Linked DNA regions of Homo sapiens. The protein of the gene in region 1 purifies or fractionates together with the protein of each later gene. This does not show direct contact. Each region holds a gene or a part of one and is shown on either strand. Other genes may lie near its edges.

The links.
Region 2: the proteins of SNX16 (region 1) and TBC1D2B purify together in Homo sapiens (affinity purification with mass spectrometry; one large-scale study listed by BioGRID and IntAct). This does not show direct contact.
Region 3: the proteins of SNX16 (region 1) and PALM purify together in Homo sapiens (affinity purification with mass spectrometry; one large-scale study listed by BioGRID and IntAct). This does not show direct contact.

What each region holds. Positions count from the first base shown.
Region 1 is NC_000008.11:81,801,551-81,804,252, reverse strand, and holds part of SNX16 (sorting nexin-16), read left to right. Parts: intron 1-1,024; coding exon 1,025-1,161; intron 1,162-1,753; coding exon 1,754-1,873; intron 1,874-2,659; coding exon 2,660-2,702. UniProt on the Homo sapiens protein: May be involved in several stages of intracellular trafficking. Plays a role in protein transport from early to late endosomes. Plays a role in protein transport to the lysosome. Promotes degradation of EGFR after EGF signaling.
Region 2 is NC_000015.10:78,022,075-78,025,725, forward strand, and holds part of TBC1D2B (TBC1 domain family member 2B), read right to left. Parts: intron 3,424-3,651; coding exon 3,185-3,423; intron 2,466-3,184; coding exon 2,082-2,465; intron 1-2,081. UniProt on the Homo sapiens protein: GTPase-activating protein that plays a role in the early steps of endocytosis.
Region 3 is NC_000019.10:707,570-711,772, reverse strand, and holds the start of PALM (paralemmin-1), read right to left. Parts: upstream 2,839-4,203; 5' UTR 2,627-2,838; coding exon 2,622-2,626; intron 812-2,621; exon of another isoform or gene 586-811; coding exon of another isoform or gene 575-585; intron 1-574. UniProt on the Homo sapiens protein: Involved in plasma membrane dynamics and cell process formation. Isoform 1 and isoform 2 are necessary for axonal and dendritic filopodia induction, for dendritic spine maturation and synapse formation in a palmitoylation-dependent manner.

The DNA.
Region 1 (2,702 bases):
TGAATGTGTATTGGTAATGCTTAGATCTTTGATGTTCAAATGTCTTTTAATTTTGTTTCATTCTTGAAGTATGATTTAACTGAGTGTAGAATTCTACCTTGATAGTTATTTTTCTCAGTGCTTTAAAGTGTTTTCCACTGCCTTTGACATAGACTGTTTTATGACATCTACTCCCAGTCCCCTACTGTCTTACAATTTTATAGTAAACTGATTTGTCTTCCTGGTGTTTTAGAGATCTATTTGATTTTGATATTTGCAACTTCAGTATCTTGTATTTATATATATATATTTGTTTTTATTTGTCTTCCTTATGATACATTGTTTTTCCCAAAATCCATATGAGGCTTTTTAGATTAGATTCTTCAGGTGAGACTTTACCTCGCCCACCTAGAAACCAGATTGAGACAAACAATCTTTCTTGATGTTTTTCTGTGTTGTTGAGTGACTTTTATTAATAGGCTCTTTAGGGTCTTTGCTTTATTCCTGAATCTATCACTTTTTGTCACTTACTTCCCAAAATGTACCTGACTCCTCATTTCTTGTACCATCCTGGTACTGCAACCCAAGTGTCAAGATTACCAAAATGCTGTTACAGTAGTATGTCTACTGAGCTAATACAAATGGCATCAACCACAGTTGATATTTTTTAAGTGTAATCATGTATGACTAGGCAAAAGTAGATTAAAGAGAGTAAAAACTAAAGCAGTAGTTGCCAATTATTTTTTATCCCAGTTCTACACTAGAGGGATATCACATACTCACTTCAGGCACACTAGCTTACTACTGTAAGTCTTAAGAAAAAGAACTTGTAGTTATGTCCCCCTGGTGGATGGGAACTAAAGTTAAGATACCAGTGACCTAAAAAGATGAGGGTAGAGAACAAATCATTTGGAGTTTCATACTATTATTTTGATTATCTGTGTTCTTTGACTCTTCAATAATGCTCTTGAGAAAGATACTGCATTTGTAATTAATTGTATTCTTTTTCTGCATGTGTTTAGTTTTGTTTGTTGTTTTTTTTAAGGCATTCTGTGAAACTTTAGAAGAGACAAACTACCGCTTACAGAAAGAACTACTTGAAAAACAAAAGGAGATGGAATCACTAAAGAAACTGCTCAGTGAGAAGCAACTTCATATAGACACTTTAGAGAACAGAATCAGGTGTGTTGTGATACTTGCATTTCTACTCTGACTAATTCAACCCTTAATACTCTGGGCTAACTGCCCTTTATATTTTAATATGATTTAGGAATTTTCTGATTCTGAAAGTTGTAGGCTTTTGGCATACTTCATTGGGAAAATTATGCTTTATTTAGCATAATTTTGCTAAATAAATTTTGAACATTGAAGGATGGGAAACATCAGGAAAATAAGCCACTAACTGTTCAACAAGGTAAACATTATTCATTTTAATCATTGTTAAATCATTATTAAATAAATAATCATTATTAAATGGAATACCATTATTTTATTTAAGTGACATCTTAGTTTCTAGGCATTTATGCCAGCTTTTCACATATGAAAGCTCTGGTTTGCCATCTCATCAGCATATCTTGAATTGATACTAAAGTCATTTTAAATTAATCATAGCTACTGATTTTCTCTGTTGACTTCCAAAGTGAGCTATTTATTAGCTATGTAACTACATTAAGGCTTAACAGCTAAAGACTGCTATAGCTACCTGTATTCACAACATTAAACATATGCCTGTTTTGTTCATAGAAAATAACTTGTTGCTATAACATACTTTTAGAACATTGTCTTTAGAACCTGAAGAATCACTGGATGTGTCAGAAACAGAAGGTGAACAGATCCTAAAGGTGGAGTCCTCTGCACTTGAGGTTGATCAAGATGTCCTGGATGAAGAATCTAGGTATATAATATTTCATTTATGATAGCTTAATTCTTGAATAATTGGAGGAAAGTGATTCTAATACTCTATAGAGTATTTTTTTATGAACTCAGTGTTACTGTATCACGAATCTGCTAAGCAAACAGAGAATGAATTGGAAATATTTTAGGCTTTTCCTAAAATATTTAAAAATAAAAACACTTTAAAAATAAAAAGTGTCTTTGACATCAGGATGTAAGTTTTCTCATTACTTACTTTAGAGCTGTGTCTGCATTAACTGGCCTCTGACTCAGGTAATTAACTAATTTTTTAAATATTGACAGATTACCTTAATCTCCCTCAATATCACCCTTTTTCCATTGAAAAAGTAGGCTACTATAATATAATAGCAAACCACCCTTCTTACCTAATAGGAATGATGAAAAGGTAATGAATTTAAAAGCACATAGAATTTTTATTGCATACAAATCCAAGGTAATTGTTAATAGTTTAGTGGTAATGGTCAACTATAATTCTGAGAAAAATTTTATGTTGATAAAGGTAATTACCAAGTAGATTTTTATTGGTAAATGGTAGTTTGGAGAGCTGAGTTTAAAAACCTATCTCCAAAGGTCTTACTTGGCAATGACAACTTAAATATATCAAATTTCTGATTGAATGTTTAAATACTCTTACATTAAATACTTTTACACTAAGTATGTAAATTTTCTATAAGGTAGAAGATTTTTAAAGGTAATAGTGAAAATGAAATAATAGCATGCATCCAGTCCCATCATTGATATGTTCCTTTTTTTTTTTTTTTTGCAGAGCTGATAATAAACCATGCTTAAGTTTTAGTGAACCTGAAAAT
Region 2 (3,651 bases), on another chromosome or scaffold:
TGTCTGCTGGATGCAATGGCTCATGCCTGTAATCTCAGCATTCTGAGGCCAAGGCAGGCAGATCACTTGAGCTCAGGAGTTCAAGACTAGCCCAGGCAACACGGCGAAACTCTGTCTCTACTAAAAATATAAAAATGAGCTGGGTGTGGTGACATATGCCTCTAGTCCCAGCTACTCAGGAGGCTGAGGCTGGAGGATTTCTTGAGCCAGGGAGGTTAAGGCTGCAGTGAGCTGAGATTGCACTACTGCATTCCAGCCTGGGCAAAAGAGCAAGACACTGTCTCAAAAAAAATAAATACATAAAAATAAAAATTTCTGTTTTCATTAAGTAATCCCAAAATGTGTATTATTGATGGGTATATATTTAGGGTCATGTATATTCAATGTTGTGTACATTAAAAAACCCAACTTCCATTGGCAATGCTAACCAAGACCTCTTATTAAAAAAACAAACAAACAAAAACCACAAAGCCTATTTTTTTTTTCTTGCAACGGGGTCTCACTTTGTCATCCAGGCTGGAGTGTGGTGTGAGGATCTCCGCTCACTGCAGCCTTGCTCTGCTTTCCAGGGCTCAAGCAATCCTCCCACTTCAGCCTCTTGAGTAGTTGGGACCACAAGTGCAAGCCACCATGCCTGGCCATTTTTTTTTTTGTATAGAGACGGGGGTTTCACTATGTTGCCTACACTGGTCTCAAATTCCTGGGCTCAAGCAATGTGCCCACCTCAGTCACCCAAAGTGCTGCTATCACAGGCGTGAGCCACTATGCACAGCCAACTTTTTTTTTTTTAAATAGTAGATATAAGTGTAAAGTATTGAGACCAGAGGTTTTCTTGTTGTTTTGGATTTTCTCATTCATAAATCCTCTGGGCCTCACATATCCAATGGGTGTTGTCAGTGAGAAGTGGTCACTATGGGGACCATGTACATATTCCAGCCATGCTGCCATGATTCCGGTGTTTTTACTTCTGTTTTGGAATTATCTTCAGGGTCCCTAGCATGCCTATCATTCCCTCACTCAATGCATCGCCTGAAAGGTACTGCTAGGCATGAAGCAAATACTCAGTAACAACCTGGACAGCAGCAAACCTCTGCCCTCCAAGGACAAGCTCCATCCAGAGCCAAACACCCTCGGAGACACATTATTTGCAAGATGAGGGTGGCCAGGTGAGGGACGCCTTGGGGCTAGGTGAGACCAGTAGCTACAGACATGTCTGGGGTCTGCTGGGGTCAAACAGGCTATACTTGATGCCCCATGTCCTGGGGGCCACTTGTCCACCTAAAACCTCTCCCACAAAGTCTCAAGAACCGGTGGCAGCAAGAATGTTATGATCCTCCCTGTGGCCTCCCCTCTGAATCATTAGGCTTCTCTACAGGCAAGAAGAGAAATGCAGGCTGCCCCCACCTCTCACAAATGCTGTGTGTTCCTCCTACCGCATCAGCTGGTCACCACCCCAGGCATGACTAGGAGGGTCACTTCTGTTCAGGCAATAGCCTCCCAGCCTAAGGGCTAGCCCAGAGAAGGACACGGGGAGGAAAGCTGTCCTTCCTACTGAGTGTCAGGACCCTCCCATCTTGGGTGCTGGGGGCACTGACTCTGAACAGGCCCTCTTCCCAGGCCTACTTGGAAGCTGGAGTCCGCTTCCCCAGCTAACCCCATACTAGCTGTTAGGAGCAATGCTCCCAAACCAGGCATCCACTAGGTCCTGCAGCAAGCTGTGCAAATTAAGTTTGTGTGTGATTTCATGCACACAGGAGAGGCAAGAAACAGCCTCCATATGATACAAGGGATAATGAAGTACTAAGGGTGGTATATATAGAAAGAGAAGTCTTAGTTGCCTGAAAACAAGGGAGGGGAAGGATTTGAAACTGTTCAAAGCAACAGCAAGAGTTTCCTTTTCCAAGGAAGCTCCACAGAAGATTAATGATTATTTGATGGTAAGTCCTGTTACACTTGTGGGGAAAAAAAATAAGTGTGCAGCTGTTCTGCCGTCACACCAAATCAGCTCACGGAGGCCAGGCCTCTGGGGTGACATCGGTGGTCTCTCATGCCAATCACCAGAGCCCCTGCCCCACTCTTACTTTCAGCCTGTCCAGTTCCAGCTGGTCCCTGGCAACAGGCACAACCGAAGGGGAGCTGGGCGCCACGGTGGGAGGAGGCCCGTTGCCCTCGCCCTCGCTGAGCTTGATGATGACCTCGTCCTTGGCTTGGATGGTCTCCATGAGCATTCCCAGCTGCTCGTTGAGCTCGCCCACTTTGCTCTTCAGCGTCCTTACTTCCTGCTGAAGACTCTCCTTCTCCAAGCTGAACCTCTCCAGCTGGCTGGTAAGGCCCAGAATCTGATCATCCTTTTGGTGCAGAAGCTCGAGCGTGTCCTTTGGGACCCCCTCACAGAGCCGGCTGCTTGTGAAATACTTGTCATACTGGGATGACCGGACTGTCTGCTGGAGCAGTCGAACAAGCTCCTGGGAGCCAAAAGGAGAATGGAGTGAAGGGTGAAAAGAGCAAGGAGAGGAGGAAAAGCAGAAATCATGACATTACATGGAGTAATCGACAGAGTTTGAGGAAATGTAGAAACTTTACTGGAAACATTTTAATACTGAACTTCCTCTTGAAGGATCTCAAAAATAGAGGAAAAAAATATTTACTCCATAAAGACTGTCTGTAGAGAACAGTAATAGGAAACAGGAAATAATGGACATGTCCACTATAATTAGCAATGGTATCCAGTAAATGTCATGGGTATTAAAAAACCTGTGCTCTAAGAGTCACTGAACTGCTGAACAATTAAATGTAATTAGATCTGATTAGTTCAAGAAACCATTGTTGAATAGGATGCAGAAACTCTTTTTAATGACTGTTAAAGAACTCTGGGCTGAAACTGTGTTTAGGGAGATTCAACCTCAGGGGCAGGACTGGGCTGTGGTGCAGACAGCAACCTCCTCTGTCCTCCTTTGAGAGATCTTCACTCTCCTTGCAAATGCAAACACCTCTGAACCAATGATCAAGCACAGCAGCTGTGCCTAGATGACCGCCATGGCAATATGAAACCTCCAGGGGAAAAGCAACTCCTGGGAAACAAAGCTGTCCCCAGAAAGACTCAGGGAAACATAAATTGGGCTTTACTCCTCCCGTCCTTGGCCTGCTGAGGTGGGGTAAGACAGAAGCCAGAAGAAGAAGTTACCTTCTGACTGGACAGGTCTTTCTTTAACTGTTCCAGCTCTTCCTGCTGGCTCTGGACCTGCAGTTGCATTTCGGAGGCCGGCTTCCTGATGCTGACGCTGCCACTGCCTGATGTGCCTTCACTTGAAGGGTCACCACTGCTGTGACGATTTTTGTACGACCCAATTATGTCTTTCAAAGGGCGCTTTCCTTTGTAGGGGTTACGTCCAAAATCAAAGGGGAATCCTGAGCCAGTTACTCCTACATAAAAATAAAACTTGTATTTTATTATTATTATTATTATTTTTGAGACGGAGTGTCGGTCTGTCGCCCAGGCTGGAGTGCAGTGGCGCAATGTCGGCTCACTGTAAGCTCCGCCTCCCAGGTTCATGCCATTCTCCTGCCTCAGCCTCCCGAGTAGCTGGGACTACAAGCACCCGCCACCATGCCTGGCTAATTTTTTGTATTTTCAGTAGAGATGAGGTTTCA
Region 3 (4,203 bases), on another chromosome or scaffold:
AGTATCTGTCTATTCCTTGCCTTCAAAACCACTCCAGTGTAAATCAAATCGCCTTGTTTTAGAAAGAAACATTATATTGTGATCAACACTGGGCAAACCAGAAGCCACCGCCACAAACAAGACAGCGGAAACATGGAGGAAGAAACAGATACAACGGAAGTAAAAGCTTGTTATTAAATTCAATTATCACTAGGTACTGTTGCCTTTTAACAGGCTCTGCCTCTCATTAAAAAGGGGGATTAGCAAGTGTGAAGGAGCGTTAAGGACCCAGTTAGCACCCAACGGAGACTTTCCTATTGAAAATTTCCAGGTCTGCGAGCAGGGAGGAGTCTGGGCCGGTCTTGACCATCTGTCCAGGCCCAAGTCTGTTCTCCTCCCTATCCCGGGGGTTTGAGCCTTGCCTGTACCCAGGACAGGGCTGTGGGTGCTGGAGAATGGCTGCTCCAGGCCAAAATATCTTTATTTTACCAGCCAGACCATGTGTCACGCAGGGGCCACACAAACCCTCCCAGAGCACAGAGATTCTCTCCGAAGCAGAGATTCTCCCCAGCTCCTTCCTGGACGTTCTCCTCACCTTGGCAGCATCGGCCCTGTGGTTAGCAACCCGCTAGTTCTCCTTAAATCCTCACATTAACAAAAAATAACCTGTTCTTGAATGACATTTAAAATTCTTTAAATTCTTAAATTCATTTGTGAAACTTTCCAGCGAGACGGGCACCACCACAAACCACAGCCAGCTCCCGTGTCTTCGACTGGAAAATCTGTGGAAACGGGAGGAGGCAAGCGATCACGTTCTAGCGGACGGGGCCTTCGTGCCTGAAGCCCGCCGGGGAGAAGAACGAGGGGGCAGGTGTCCAAGGCCGGGCGGCACCAGATGGGCCTGTCCCCACCCATTGTCAGCCCGGGAACCGGGGAGAGAGTCGTCCTCGAATGGCGGCTCACAGCAGCCGGTTAACACTGGGTGCCTGTCCCATGTCTGCATCCCCAAAAGCAATGATGACCCAATGGGGGACCTGTGGGCCACCCTCTGACCCAGGACGGAGAAACCGTGGAGCAGAGCAGGAGGCACCGAGGCCCCCCGGCCCCAGGTGCTGTGTGATGGAGGGGGGGTGGGGGGGGGGCAGCAGCTCCTCTCTGGGCCTCAGTATCCCCCGTGGGAAAGGAAGGGGTGGCAGGAAGGAAACAATGGGCCCGACCCGGAGTGTTCGCTGACACCCCTCCTCTGGGAGGGAGATCTCCGTCGTCCTCCTAGGCAGCCCCCTCCCCACAGCCACACCCTGCCCAGGCCTGGCTGTCAGAGGCCCAGAGGCTCCTCCGGGGCCTGGCGAGCAGGGCAGATAAACAAGGCTGGGGGGTGGGGGTGTGGAGCAGGCAAGTCTGGGCCCTGGCTCCCCTGAGCCCCTGGCTGAGCTCCCGGGGCGGGGTGACGGGGAGAGGGGTCAGGCCTTTGTCTGGGTTTTCAAAAGCAGAGGACACTGGGTGTCTCGCTTTCCCAGGGAGGGAGGGAGGCAGCGGCCCCCACCCAGCCGCGGGCGTGGCGGGTCACGGGTGAATCCCCGGGGAAAGTTGGCGGCTTAGAAAACACGCCCAGTGGGAAGGGCAGGGGGCCACAGGCGGCCTCCAGATCCGGTCTTCGGTCCTCGGGCTGGGGTGGGGACCCGGGCCTCAGCAGGGCAGCTGGCTCCCCTGTCCTGAAGTGGGCAGGTGGGTGACCCCAGGAGGAGCCTCCTGACCCCTGCCCGTGCAGTGCCCACCTGTGGGAGTGAGGGGCAGAGGGGCACCCGAGCACCGGGAGGAGGGGACCGGTGTCCGAAATGACCACGCGCCCTCGCTCGGTGCCTCCACTGGCCACCCCCCCCCCACACACACAGGCGCAGCCATGCGGGGGTCCAGGGATCCCAGCCCAGGGCCAGCCCACTCCTGTAGCTACACCAGTGGAGCCCCAGCTCCGAGACACTTCCCCGAGAGGGTATCCCACCCAGGCGCCCCGCTGGAAAACGCCGGTTCCTCTCCCTTCTCACACACCCCAGAGACCCGGGAAGCCGAGGGCAGCCCCTCTCCCTCCAGCGGTAACTCGGGACCTGCGCAGTGGCGGGGGGCTCAGGACACCCCTGGAGGCCCTTGGGAAGGGCGGGGGTGGGGGGCACCGGCCCGCGCGCGCGTCCAGGGCGCCAGGAGCCGTGCGCTCAGACTGGGGCGGGGGAAGGGTGCGTGAGCGCGAGGCCGGACCGGTGCAATCTGGGGAGGGGTCGCTCCATCTCCCCGGGGCCACCCACAGGTGGCCGAGAGCCGAGGCTCGCCCTGGAGACGCGGGCGGGGCGCGGGCGGAGACGCGAGCCTCCCCCTCCCCGCGTCCTGGACTGGCCCGAGCCGCCGCTGCCCGGGTCCCCACGCGCCGGTGGGTGGGCAGCCGGGGTCCGGGAGCGGGGAGGCCTCCCGGCAGGCGCGGCCCAGCCCGAGTCTCTTCCCGGCTGCGCTGCGGCCCCAGCAGCCCCGCGCCGCCTCCTGCTCCTCGCGGGGGCAGCGACGCCCCCAATGGGGCGCGAGAGAGGGGGCCTCCCCCCTCCCCGGCTCCCGGAGCTCCGGGCCCCCAGCCCCGCGGCCCGAGCGCGCCTACTCACTCCATCTCCCCGCCGAGGTCCGGGTGGGTCCGCGGTGCCGGGCGGGGGCGGGCGCGGGTGGCGCGCGGGGGAGGGGAGGGGAGGGGGACGCGGCCTGGCGGGGGCCGGGGCGGGCTAAGGCCTGGCGGCCGGGGCTGCGCGGCGCGGGGGCGGCGGCACCGGCTCGGGCATCGCCCCGCGCAAAGCTGCTGTTTATTGTCCGGGCGGCGGCGGGCGCGGGGGGTGGGCTGGGCGCGCGCGTCTCCGGCGCGCTCCCCTCTCCCTCCCGCCCGCCCCGCTCCCCGCCCCGCTCCCCTCCCACCTCCCCGCGCTGCGAGCGGGCGCTGCGCCTCCTGCCGGCTGCGCCGCCGCCGCCCCCCGCCCCGCGCGCCCCGCCCCGGGGCACCCCTGAGAAGGGCCTAGGTCTGGGCGCGGTGCTGGGACCCGGCTGTCACCAAGTCCCGCCCCTCCCCAGCTCCTGGGCCAGAGCCGGGACCCTCGCGAAGTCAGACAAGCAAAGGCCTTTCTCGAGAGCCCAGACGCCGAGAGGGACACACATTTCAGGGCGAGCGAGGGGATAGGGGGGTCCTGGGGAGGCCGCTGCGAGGAGCTGACAGCTCCCTGCACCCCCGGCCCCGCTCGCAGGGTCCCCAGGCCTCCTTTGCCGGAGTATCTGGTGGAGGGCGCTGTGCCTGCAAAGGCCGGGGGTTGGGGTGGAGACAACCGCAGGTGCTGATCTGTCTGTGCCCTGGCTGGGAGCTGAGCCTGGTCCCCGGGGCTGGAATTTAATCGGCCCCAGGGCCCCCATGGCACACTCACTAAAGGCCCAGCGACCAGACGACCAGAGTGAGTGAGAGGGACGGTGGAGAATCAGGGAGAGCTCAGGCTTTGTCCTCAGAGCACTGGGGAGCCACAGCAGGAGACAGGCAGGACCTGTCTTCCCCAACATGTAGGCCTTGGGCCCAGCTTCCTGGTTTCCCGTGAGAACACTGCAGACCAGCCCCAGCACACCTACTCATGGGGGTCCAGGGTGGGCAGGAAGGAAAGATTCTTCCAAACTTCTTAGTTTTCTTATAAAACGGTTCTCCTCTGCCGATGTTTGCTGAATGGCTGTAGATTTAAAGGAAAGTAGCCCCGGATGAGCTGTGGAGAAAGATACGGCAGGATGTACCCCAGGCTGAAGAAGGCCGTCAACACCTTTTCTTTATTCCTCCCTTTTTACAATGAATGTGTATTCATTTTAGCATTTAAGACAATAAGATAAATTAGCAAAGGTTAACAAAGCTAAGATCCTAAAGAATATCAGGGGTCCCGGGTCTGTCTGATTCCCAGCTCACCCATCTCCAAGCTGTGTGACCCTGGGTCTGTTTCTCAACCTCTCGGAGCCTTATTCCCCCCCACCCCCCTGCCCCCACCCTTAAGGCTGTGGGAGGGTTAACTGAGTGAGCACACACAAAGGGCTTGGCACAGGGCCCAGCACACACTAGCTCAGGGTTTGGCAAACTTTTTCTGTAAAGGGCCAGAGAGTAAATATTTTCAGCATTGCAGGCCACAGTCTCTGCGGCAATGACTCTGCTCTGCCATCGCAGAGTGAAAGTAGCCA